Linked DNA regions of Homo sapiens: all the other regions are linked to region 1. Evidence: fine-mapped expression QTL. A gene starts in region 1. Each other region holds a variant in brackets. All regions are shown on one strand. Distances are from middle to middle.

Region 1 (4,271 bases):
CGTTACCAGAAGAGGCCGTTGAGCGCGGCCGCCGTGACCAGGCTGTGCAGCGGCTTCTCCCACACCAGCAACCGCTGCGCCGCCGCCAGCACCGCCTCCCAGCCGCGGAGCCGCAGCCACAGCGTCGTGGCCAGGCGTCCCACCGCCTCGGCCGTGGCCGCCTCCTCCTCTGCCTCACTGGTGGCCTCACTCATGCCTAGGCTCAGACCCAGACCCAGGCCCAGGCTCAGGCCCATCCCCGGCCCCCCACCCGCGCCAGTGTTACCCCCGCCACCGCCGCTCGCCATAGCCCCGCCGCAGCCGCCGCCCGAGCCCGCGAGGAGCCAGGGCTGCGCGGCCGCCGCCGGGGGCGCGTCAGGCGGAAGGGGGCGCCGCGGAGGACAGCAGAGGTTGCGGACGAGCGTCACGTGACTGCGGAGCGCTGAGCCCGTCACGTGACGCGGCCTAACCCCCCCCCCCCCGGATAGGGCGGGCCGCGCATGCGCCCCGGCGGCTGCCGCTGACACTGCGCCTACACAGGTTCGTTTTCTGGTTGACGAAGTACCCCGGGTTCCGAGTCCGGGTCTAGGTCCAGGCAGTCGAGCCCGTTTTCTTATCCCACAGTAGGCAGGGCGGCTAGGGAGTGTGGTGCTGCCCCGGTATCCCCGTGTGGGGCAGGAAGTGGGCTTCCAGATTCCCAGTATCCCCGGTAGGGTCTGCTTCTGCTCGCTCGGGAAGGGCGGTGGCCGTCCCATTACTCAACCAACCCTCAACGCACTGGTCCTCCCAGTTCCCTCCCCTCAGTGGGTAAACAAACACACACCAGCGCTTGACTCGACAGACTCGAAAACAACATCTACTCAGAAAAGTTGTTTCTTTCCTATCTCCTTAAACTTTCCCACTTCCACATATCGGAGCTTCTTCCCACCTCGGCCTACTCAAGCATGAGATCGGAGGCGGGAGGTGGGTTTCAACACAAAACCTTGGGTAGATGCAGTTTACTTTTGGGTGGACGTGTTGACACGTTTTGAGGCCTTACATTCGCTTAAGATCACAGAATTTCCTCAGTAGCCTTAGGTTTAAAAGTTCAAATTACAGTAAAAAAAAAAAACACCCTGAGTTTCTCTTCCTTTTCATAGTTCACCCACTGCTAAATTTCCTGTGTGTCCTTTCAGACGCTTTTCATATGCATTGCTGAGTATGTATAATATCTCTCCTAAAAAGCAACTGGGAACAACTTCCTGTTGTGCGTTTCGTCTTATTCACATTAACTTCTCCATTGCTACGCCTGGCTTGTTCATCCTCAGTGCGGCGTGGTCCCCCCTACGAATTGTCCCCATTTCTCAGAGGCGCCTGGGGCTTGGCCACGTTCCGTGAGACCAGGAGTTCGAGTCCGGTTCCTGCCCGCGGGTCGGGGCGGGAGGCTGGGCCAGATGGGCGGCAGGAAGTGCCAGGCGCTGACTTGCAGGCGGCACCCCCGCGGCTTGTAAACGCCGGGCGGACGCGGCACAGGCGGAGTACGCGCCTCGCAGCCGCATCTCCTTTCTGCTCCGCGAGGTGAGCGTCGCACGGACGCTTGACACCTCCCTTCCCGGGCCTAGGGCCCCCGCGCGCCGCGCCAAGCCCGGGGCGGAACAGGAAGAGGCGCCCAGTTCAGCCCGGGCCCCGCCTTCCGCCGCCGGGGGGAGGGAGCTGCGAGGGCGAGGGCGAGGACGGCGGCCCGCCCCGGGGAGGCAGGCTGGCAGGTGGACAGGCGGGCAAGGACAGCTCCGCGAGCCCCCTACAACTCGTTTCCTTCCGTTCACCTTCGCAGGGCGGCGACTGGCGGCGCGATGGACCTGACCGGGCTCCTGCTGGACGAAGAAGGCACCTTCTCCCTCGCCGGCTTCCAGGACTTCACGGTGAGTGGGGGTCCCGCCCCCTCCCCGGCCTCCCGGCGCGCCCCTCCCGGCCTGAGCGGCGCTGCGAGCTCGCCTGACTGCTGTGCCGGGACTGGGCGGCAGCTGCTCGAGCAGTGCTTCCTTGAGGCCGCGGCTGCTTGGGCCGGGAGGGAGAGCCGCGGAGTATAGGAATGGGCGTAGGGGTGGCCACACGAGGGCCCTTCTCGGAGAACTTCTCCCGGGGAACCCTCGATGGGGGTGGGGGCATTCCTCCCTCTATGGACCAGGCTGCCATTGGCAAGCGATTTACAGAACGCGGGTCTGGGTAAGGCACGGGCCCCCTAGCAGCGAGGCCGGCCTGTCCCCTGCCCCGCCTTCCAGCCCAGAGCCAGGATCTGCATCATACCTTTCCGTGCCCTTCACCCTCCGCTGCCCCTGCCCTGTTTCAGTTCCTCCCAGGACACCAGAAGCTGAGTGCCCGGATCCGAAGGAGGCTCTACTATGGCTGGGACTGGGAAGCCGACTGTAGCCTGGAGGAGCTCTCCAGCCCGGTGGCAGGTTAGGCAGTGTTGTGTGACTGGACAAGTGAGAAGCATGAAAATGGGATTGTCATCAGGCAGAAAATGGCTCGAGGTTTGCCCCGTGGCTACACTGTCTCTTCATTGCTAGCTCGTTGGTACTTGGTTCAAGAGGGCAGTTTGCATTTCCCATTCTTTTAGCCCAAATGAATAAAAAACATTGCTGCCACATATATCTATACAAATCACTCTTGATTTATATATTGAAAAGCTAATTTTCGAAGGATATCCATCATATGTTCCCCAAGTAAACAAGGCATGTTTATGCCACAGATGAACAGCAGTGACAGATAAATCTGGATAGTTTGATGTGACAGGGCAATAAGCTTTCCTGTTAGAATGAGCTGAAATTCGAACTTGGAATGGGCTTTTTGTCTCAGTGTGTGAGAATTTGATCTCTATTTTGTTACTATGGTCCTGTCCCCAAGGCCTCAGAAAATACAGATCTGGGTCTTCTGCTAGCAGTGGGGACTGGTGTGTTGGGTGTGGGTGCTTGTTTGCTCACTCGGCCTTCCTTCTGTCCCTTGCAGACATTGCTGTCGAACTGCTCCAGAAGGCAGCCCCCAGCCCTATTCGCCGACTCCAGAAGAAATATGTAGCTCATGTGTCCCGGTGAGCCTGGAAATGAGGATAGGATGAGAGTGTTTGGGCCCTAGAGAAAGGGGAATCGTCTTTTCTTTCTTTTCTTTCTTTCTTTTTTTTTTTTTTGAGACAGTCTCACTTTGTCACCCAGGCTGGAGTGCAGTGGCACAATCTCGGCTCACCGCAACCTCCGCCTCCTGGGTTCCAGTGATTCTTGTGCCTCAGCCTCCCCAGTAGCTGGGACTACAGGCACACACCACCGCCCCTGGCTAATTTTTGTATTTTTAGTAAAGACGGGGTTTCACCATGTTGGCCAGGCTGGTGTCAAACTCCTGGTGTCAGTCCACCCACCTTGGTCTTCCAAAGTGCTGGGATTACAGACATGAGCCACCGTGCCCAGCCAGGAATAGTTTTTTTCCAAAGATAAGAGGTAAAGACAGGAACGAGCATCATAAGACTTGCAAGAGCTGAAGGACCCTTGGGTTTAATTAGTGATCCTTTCTACCACCCAGGGAGGCATGCATCTCCCCATGTGCTATGATGCTGGCTCTGGTGTACATTGAACGGCTCCGGCACCGAAACCCAGACTACTTGCAGCATGTGTCATCCTCTGACTTGTTCCTGATCTCCATGGTAAGACACCCCCTCCCCATCTCCCTAAAGAGCCAAGAGCCTGCTATGAGCTCTGCTCCACCACTTCTGGTTCCTCTGCAGATGGTGGCCAGTAAGTACCTCTATGATGAAGGGGAGGAGGAGGAGGTCTTCAACGACGAATGGGGAGCTGCTGGGGGTGTGGCCGTGCCCACTCTCAATGCCTTGGAGAGGGGCTTCCTGAGTGCCATGGTGAGCAGCTGTTCTCTCTCTTGCTCAGTTTCCCTGGCCCATCTTTAACCGTCCTTTAGTCCTTTGTTCTCTCTCAGTCTTCTGTTGGTTCGTCATTTCTCTTCCTGTCCTCCTCCTGCCTTTGTGTTAGTGTCTTCCTTTCCTATCTCTTCAGTACTAACCAGTTTTTGGAGATTCGTAGAGCAGTAAGGCCAAGAGCAGAACATTTCCTCGCCTCCTCTATTCCTCCAGGGCCCCACAGGGTACACTCTGAGTCAGAGTTTATCCTATTGGGTTCTGAATATTTGTGTCCATACTTTCTCTGCCCCTAGATGTTTAGCTCCCTGTGGACACAGACCATTCTCAGGGTCATTTTCTCCCCTCTTGCTTAGTGGAGAGTATAATGTGAAACCAGGCAGGTGGTGATTCA
Region 2 (4,135 bases), 22 kb before region 1:
GGACAGACTCCACACGCGCCATCTTAAGAGCTGTAACACTCACCGCGAGGGTCTGCGGCTTCATTCTTGAAGTCAGTGAGACCAAGAACCCACCAATTGCGGACACAAGCTCATTTTAGATGCCTAGTTTAGACAAATAGTTCAGATTCATGTAACTTTACAGGTTATACAGTGATTTCATATATATTCAATCTGCTAAAGTATGTGTGTGTGTGTATATATATATATATATATATATATATATATATATATATAAATTTTTTTTTTTTTGAGTTGGAGTTTTGTTGTTGCCTCGGCTGGAGTGCAGTGGCATGATCTCGGCTCACTGCAACCTCCACCTTCTGGGTTCAAGTGATTCTTCAGCATCAGCCTCCCAAGTAGCTGGGATTTCAGGCACCCGCCACTCGCCCAGCTAATTTTTGTATTCTTAGTAGAGAGGGTTTCACCATGTTGGCCAGGCTGGTCTTAAACTCCTGACTTAGGGTGATCTGCCCGCCTCAGCCTCACAAAGTGCTAGGATTACAGGCATGAGCCACCGCGCCTGGCCACAATCTGCTAAATACCAACTGGAGTTGTCAGGTCTTAGATGCAGCAACTAGTTCAAAGTGAGAAGGACCGAATACAGTGGCTTTCCAAGTTTTTCAGCTTTGACCTACGGTAAGAAATATATCTTACATCTCCTCCCAATGTATATAAATATAAAATCAATGTTGTTTAAGCTGCACCGAATTGATTGCACAGCCCACTAATTTCATAACTCCACGTTTGAAACCGATGCTCTAATGGGAAGGTGCAGGACACGGAAATGGGAGCCAGTAATGGCCAAGAGTGAGGCTGGGGAGGCACAGTGAGAGTGCTTCAGGCAGACAAGATGCCAAATGCACTCTAGCCAGAGGCGGGGCCTGGGGAGAGCAGCACAAAGGTTATGGATGACCTTCAAGTAGAGCTCAGAGGAGTCTGAGGGTGCAAGAGGTGAGAGGTGAAAGAGACTCTGCTAAATGTGGTAAAATGAATGCATGTGATTTTATGTTTGCTTCCTTCCCAAACCCCACCAAAATAACAGTAAAACAATAAGGAGAACAGAAGCGAAAACAATACATGAAGATATGACAAAAACATTTTGGGAGCTAAACATCTGATGGAAGAAGGAAAACTGACTAGGGTCCGAGGAAGTTGAAACGGTGGGAACAACAAGCGGCAGGCCAGTGTTGACTTCGTTGCCGCTGAAAGGCTTGGGACTGGGAGCATCAAGCTTTCCAAAGGTAGGGGTGGAAGGAGGGGGCTGGAAATGAAGGGTGAGTTTAAACTCGACATAAGGAGCAGTTAGACCCTCATGTTCCCTCCTCCAGCCTGGGCAGCTGGGTGACTGCCCCTCTCCCACTGCCCCCCCAGAAAAGGCAGGAGGTATCTGGGTTCTCTGGAGAGAATGAAGCAATGGGTCCCTGGGCTTCAGGTTGTCAGCCAGCTGAGGGTGAAGAGGGAGAGAAACTGCAGCTATTTTCTCCTGACTCTAGAGCACTAGCAGCCAGGTTCATGGTCCCCAGGCCAGAGGCTGCAGGGTTCTTCTCTGGAAGAACCGAGCAGCCTAAAAATTCTCTGGGCATTGAGGGATCTCAACACAATGGTTGTCTCTGCCACCTCACCCTGCAGGGAAGATGCAAATCTTCGAATTTTAGAGAGCATTCAGTTGGCCTTTAAGTGCCTCTGCTCAGATATGAAGGAGCAAACCAGGGTTTGAGGGAAGTCTCTTCCATGAAAGACAGAAGCCAAAATAAAGACATAAATGGTGGTGAGGAGGAAAACAAGTACAATGCAGGGAATGTAAAAATATAATTTATATAACTAGACTACTAATAATATAATAATATAACTTATTAAGAATGCTCAGGGCTGGGGGCAGTGGCTCACGCCTGTAATCCCAACACTTTGGGAGACTGAGGTGGGCAGATCACCTGAGGTCAGGAGTTCGAGACCAGCCTGGCCAACATGGTAAAACCCTGTCTCTACGAAAAATACAACAATTAGCTGGTGTGGTGGTGGGTGCCCATAGTCCCAGCTACTTGGGAGGCTGAGGCAGGAGAATCGCTTGAACCCAGGAGGCAGAGGTTGCAGTGAGCCAAGATGGCGCCACTACACTCCAGCCTGGGCAACAGAGTGAGACTCTGTCTCAAAAAAAAAAAAAAAAAAAAAAAAAGAGAATGATTAGGCCAGGCGTGGTGGCTCACGCCTGTAATTCCAGCACCTTGGGAGGCCAAGGCAGTTGGATCACTTGAGGTCAGGAGTTTGAGACCAGACTGGCCAACATGGC[G/A]AAACCCTGTCTCTACTAAAAATACAAAAATTAGCTGGGCTTGGTAGCAGGCGCCTGTAATCCCAGCTACTCGGGAGACTGAGGCAGGAGAATCACTTGAACCCGGGAGGCAGAGGTTACAGTGAGCTGAGATAGTGCCACTGCACTCCAGCCTAGGCGACAGAGTAAGACTCTGTCTCAAAAAAAAAAAAAAAAGAAAATGATTAATATTAATACAGTGTACTCAGGAAGCAGATTTTTTTTTTTTTTGAGATGGAGTTTTACTCTTGTTGCCCAGGCTGGAGTGCAGTGGCACGATCTCGGCTCACCACAACCTCCACCTCCCAGGTGCAAGCGATTCTCCTGCCTCAGCCTCCCTAGTAGCTGGGATTACAGGCATGCACCACCATGCCCGACTGATTTTGTATTTTCAGTAGAGACGGGGTTTCTCCATGTTGGTCAGGCTGGTCTCGAACTCCCGACCTCAGGTGATCCACCCGCCTTGGCCTTCCAAAGTGCTGGGATTACAGGTGTGAGCCACTGTGCCCAGCTCAGGGAGCAGATTTTTCATTTAACACACAGGAGCAAAAAAACATAAAAAGGGATATTCAAGCCAGGTGTAATGGTGTGTACCTGTAATCCCAGCTACACAGGAGGCTGAAGCAAGAGGTTTGCTCAAGCCCAGGAGTTGGAGTCCAGATTGAGCAACATAGTGAAATTCTATCTCATAAAATGGGGGGTGGGGAGGACAGGGGGAAGGATATTCAGAAAATAAAGCTCTTAGACATTTTTAAAAATATAATCACAGAAATATAGCACATTCCAAAGAATGGGTACAACATAAAGTTGAGAAAATATAGGAAGTAGAACAAAAAAATGTAAAGGAATGGAAAATAAGCAAAGTAGAATATCAGTCCAGGAGTTTCAAGATTTTATGAACAGGAGTGCCCAAAACAGAAACTGGATGGGAGGAAATTATTTTTCAAAAAGTAGAGGTTAGAAGCTGGGCGCGGTGGCTTACTCCTGTAATCCCAGCACTTTGGGATGCTGAGGTGGGCGGATCATGAGGTCAGGAGATCGAGACCATCCTGGCTAACATGGTGAAACCCGGTCTCTACTAAAAATACAAAAAATTAGCCGGGCGTGGGGGCGGGTGCCTGTAGTCCCAGCTACTCGGGAGGCTTGAGGCGGGAGAATGGCATGAACCCAGGAGGCAGAGCTTGCAGTGAGCCGAGATTGTGCCACTGCACTCCAGCCTGGGCGACAGAGTGAGACTCTGTCTCAAAAAAAAAAAAAAAAAAAAATGAGTCAGCCTTGGTAGTGGACGCCTGTAATCCCAGCTACTTGGGAGGCTGAGGCACGAGGATTGCTTGAACCAGGGAGGCGGAAGTTGCAGTGAGCCGAGATCCTGCCATTGCACTCCAGCCAGGGCGACGGAGGGAGACTCCGTCTCAGAAAAAAAAAAAAAAAGAAAAAAGAAAAAGAAAAATAGCTGGGCATGGTGGCTCACGCCTGTAATCCCAGCTACTTGGGAGACTGAGGCAGGAGATTGCCTGAACCCAGAGGGCAGAGGTTGCAGTGAGTCAAGATCACACCACTGCACTCCAGCCTGGGCTACAGAGGGAGACTCCATCTCAAAACAAAACAAAACAGGCTGGGTGCGGTGGCTCACGCCTGTAATCTCAGCACTTTGGGAGGCCGAGGCGGGTGGATTACCTGAGGTCAGGAGTTTGAGACCAGCCTGGCCAACACGGAGAAACCCATCTCTACTAAAAATACAAAAATTAGCTGGGCATGGTGACACATGCCTGTAGTCCCAGCTGCTCAGGAGGCTGAGGCAGGAGAATC
Region 3 (4,000 bases), 40 kb after region 1:
TACATGTAAATAGATGAGTAGCCTATATTCCCATTCTACCACCTGCCTTATTTGTTTGACATTTATGTTTTCTGAAAGGCAGTCCCAACTTCGGGATGAAGTGTATATAAACCTTGAATCTTTTATTATTGAGAAATCCCAGAACCTCTCTTTTTTTAGAGCCAGTTAAGAGACTAACACCTCAAAAGTCAAAAGAATAAGTACCTAACAAAATCCTGGAAAGAAAATTAGTCTTAGAGTCACAAGGGCTCCACTTCCACAGTTAGAAGGGCTACCCTTTTACCATGTACCTGTTGTTCAATATGTAGAGAAAGCCATAGGATTCAGGGTGGTTTTTTTTTAGTGTCCATGTGGGCATCGTAAAAAAGGATAAGTCTAGATGCATGAGAATATGCTCCCTCCTATTATGTGTGTCAGTTCTCCGACCTAGAAAAACTTGCAGTTAATTCATCCTTTCGGTATTCGGTCAGGTGCATGCGGGCTGAATGAGGTTCTGTGAGCATATAAGGTATGATAATATTGCCATCAAAGAGCTTATAGTGCTTAGTGAATGATAATAAGGGCCATAGTAGTGGAGTGATTAGAAAAAGCTTTCTATAAATGGCAGGACGTGAACTGGGCTTTGATTTAGGCTTTGATTGAAAACTATGTGGAAGACATTTTAGGTGGGAAGCACTTGGGCAAAGGATGGAAAATAAGAATAAGAATGGATGAGGATTAGTAGAAAATAAAGTTAGCAAGATAATAACTTGAGGCTAAATTGTGGGGGCCTTAAATGTTGGGCTGGCAGATTAGTGTTTTATTCTGAAGGTGGTTTTCAGTTTTTTTTGTTTTTTTTTTTTTTTTTTTTTTGCCTGTAACACATTTATTTCTCCATTTAGTTCAATTGTTAACGACTGTCATTATGTGCTGTGATTCTCAAGTGGGGACACATCTCCTAGGAGGGAGATGGGGCACATTCTCCTTGCACTTATTAATTACTGTTGCAGATAGTGGGAAGCCATTGAAAGTTTTGACTGGAGAATTGACATATGAAGGTGATCTTTAGGAATATTAGGCTCTTGGTCATATGCTTATGTGATTTGAAGAATAGTGATGCCATTGATAGACTAGGAAGATCATGGGTGGGGTCGGTTTAACCGTGGGCATATAAAAGAATTGTTTTCCTTACTGAAAATATGAATGTACCAGTATTTGAGCTCTGGAATGAAAATCTCCAGGGAGGAAGGTATGGCTGTGCATGTTTCTCAACTATATTTTGTTTTTTCTGAATTTCACCTTCTCTTTGGGGTTTTCTCACTGTGAATCCTGTAGTAACCAGGGGTTACCACTTCTTTTTTTTTTTTTTTTTCTCAAGAAGAGCTAAAAAGACCTCTTTCTTTATTTTCCTTTTGCAAAGGCTTATAAGGGCTTATGTTTTCAAAAGGAAATTTATTAAAAATTTTAAAGTAATTTTTTAAAAAAATTGTTAAAATTTTGAGAGAGAAAAAAAAGGAAATCAATATAGAAAATACAAATGGGGCCAGGTGCGGTGGCTCAGGTCTGTAATCCCAGCACTTTGGGAGGCTGAGGCGGGCAGATCAGTTGAGGTCGGGAGTTTGAGATCAGCCTGGCCAACATGGCGAAACCCCATCTCTACTAAAGATAAGAAAACTAGCTGGGTGCAATGGTGGGTGCCTGTAATCCCAGCTACTCAGGAGGCTGAAGCAGGAGAATCGCTTGAATCTCGGAGGCAGAGGTTGCAGTGAGCCGAGATTGTGCCACTGCACTCCAGCCTGGGCAACAGAGCAAGACTCCATCTCAAAGAAACAAACAAATAAAGAAACCAAGTAGGGGCTACGTGTGGTGGCTCACGCCTATAATCCCAACAGTTTGGGAGGCTGAGGTGGGTGGATCACCAGAGGTCAGGAGTTCGAGACCAGCCTGGCTAACATGGCGAAACTCCATCTCTACTAAAAATACAAAAATTAGCCGGGCTTGGTGGCACAGGCTTGTGATCCCAGCTACTTGGGAGACTGAGGCAGGAGAATCACTTGAACTCTGGAGGCTGAGGTTGCAGTCAGCCAAGATTGCATCACTGCACTCCAGCCTGAGCGACAAAGCGAGACCTTGTCTCTAAAAAAAAAAAAAAAAAA[AG/G]AAACCAAGTGGGAATACATTATGAGAAAGACACTGTCTCAGAAAAAGAAAGAAAGAATACAAAGGGGGTAAAAATTATCCATTTTGGGTTTCTGATTCTAAGAATCCCAATAGCAAAGGAGTTTCCCATATCTCAAATTCTCTTATCCTAAAAAATCTCAAAACCAGATATTACAAAATCAGATATCTGCAGGGGCCAGTCATATTACATAAACATGTATATCAGGCTGGATAGAAGACAACAGAGAGTTGTAGGGGCCTGTGGAAAACGAAATCATGCATGTCCCTGTATCTAGACCTGGATAGGCTAGCACAGTTTAACAGACTGCGCTCCAGGGGGTTGTATATCTTACTTTACTCAAAGGAAGTTACCAACTCTGCCAAAGTGAAAACTATTTTTTCCTCTGTTTTGCTCCATCAAATCCACCATTAGTCTCTCATTTGGTTTATTTATTTATTTATTTGTTTTCTAAAAGAGACAGGATCTCACTATGTAGCCGAGGGCTGGTCTTGAACTCCTGGGCTCAAGCAATTTGCCTGCCACAGCCTCCCAAAGTGCTGGGATTACAGGCATGAGCCACACTTACTTGCTTTAAATCTCCAGTCTAAGAAATCCATTTGGTTCAGATTTGATTTGTGAGGCAGTGATGATGTTTGATGTCTTACTTCTTTACTTTTGAGACGGAATCTCACTCTGTCCTGTAGGCTGGAGTGCAGTGGGGTGATCTCGGCTCACTGCAACCTCTGCCTCCTGGGTTCAAGCAATTCTCCTGCCTCAGCCTCCTGAATTACTAAGATTACAGGCACCTGCCACCACGCCTGGCTAATTTTTTTGTATTTTTAGTAGAGACAAGGTTTCACCGTGTTGGCCAGGCTGGTCTCAAACTCCTGACCTTGAGTGATCCACCCACCTCGGCCTCCCAAAGTGCTGGGATTACAGGCGTGAGCCACTGTGCCCGGCCTTGATGTCTTACTTCTGACAAATACCTAGCCCTTTTGGGCCTAACCTATAAGCTTCATGTACCTCCAGAGCTTTTTGTGAAGATTTACACAGTTGAGTCTCCCTCCTCTTTCCCCTAGTAGAAGAAGGGTTTCATAAAAATCCATTTGTTACAGTATGGTAATTTAACAATGCCTTAGCCTATTTTTTACAAAATCAGTGGCTTATTTATAATTAGAGTTAATTTAAAAACATAAGATGAAGATTTTTTTCACATACATGTTGAATTTTTTTTTTTTTTTTAATTGAGACGGAGTTTCACTTTTGTTGCCCGGCTGGAGTGCAATGGCACGATCTCGGCTCACTGCAACCTCCGCCTTCTGGTTTCAAGCAATTCTCCTGCCTCAGCATCCCGAGTAGCTGGGATTACAGGAGCCCACCACACCACACCCGGCTAATTTTTGTATTTTTAGTAGAGACGGGGTTTCACCATGTTGGCCAGGCTGGTCTCGAACTCCTGACCTCGTGATCCACCTACCTCAGCCTCCCAAAGTGCTGGGATTACCAGCGTGAGCCACCGCGCCTGGCCACATGTTGAATTTAAATTGATTATGGGACGTACAAGTGAGAATGCCTAGGAAAGAGTTGAAAAACTAGGGTTGAAGCTCAGGTCGAAGAAAAGGGTCTACAGAAAATAGATTTGAGAATCTTCTACAAAGAAATGATATTTGATGCCATGAGAATGGATGGATCTTTAGCTGGGAAGAGTATGGAAAAAAGAACAAAGGCCCAAAGATTGAGATATGGGGAATAGTCATAACTGGAAGGAGTAATAGCCAGTGATGGAAATGTGAGACAGGAAGATAATCAGAATAGCATAGTAGATTAGCCAAGAAAGGGTAACTAACAAATATAAAGTCCATA

The links. PIP is the estimated chance that this variant, and not a neighbour inherited with it, causes the effect.
Region 2: its variant is the best candidate, but not a certain one, in a credible set for the expression of CNPPD1 in whole blood (TOPMed, PIP 0.57).
Region 3: its variant is the best candidate, but not a certain one, in a credible set for the expression of CNPPD1 in B cells (CEDAR, PIP 0.50).

Annotation. Positions count from the first base shown.
Region 1 is chr2:219,174,369-219,178,639 of GRCh38, reverse strand. CNPPD1 (cyclin Pas1/PHO80 domain containing 1) reads left to right here and starts at 1,715. Exons shown (of 8, transcript NM_015680.6): 1 at 1,715-1,880; 2 at 2,309-2,417; 3 at 2,968-3,049; 4 at 3,532-3,652; 5 at 3,734-3,862. The coding sequence starts at 1,812. It overlaps RETREG2 (reticulophagy regulator family member 2), which reads right to left and starts at 365. Exons shown (of 9, transcript NM_024293.6): 1 at 7-365. The coding sequence starts at 287. RefSeq lists silencers at 81-330, 381-460, 1,451-1,500, 1,571-1,780, 1,901-1,960 and 1 more and an enhancer at 170-670.
Region 2 is chr2:219,196,420-219,200,554 of GRCh38, reverse strand. No RefSeq gene overlaps it. Among named protein-coding and RNA genes, the nearest start is that of ZFAND2B, 8.3 kb to the left of the region's middle. The variant G/A (reference allele first, on the strand shown) is at 2,309.
Region 3 is chr2:219,134,423-219,138,422 of GRCh38, reverse strand. All of the region lies in intron 5 of NHEJ1 (non-homologous end joining factor 1), which reads left to right. Among named protein-coding and RNA genes, the nearest start is that of NHEJ1, 24 kb to the left of the region's middle. The variant AG/G (reference allele first, on the strand shown) is at 2,136.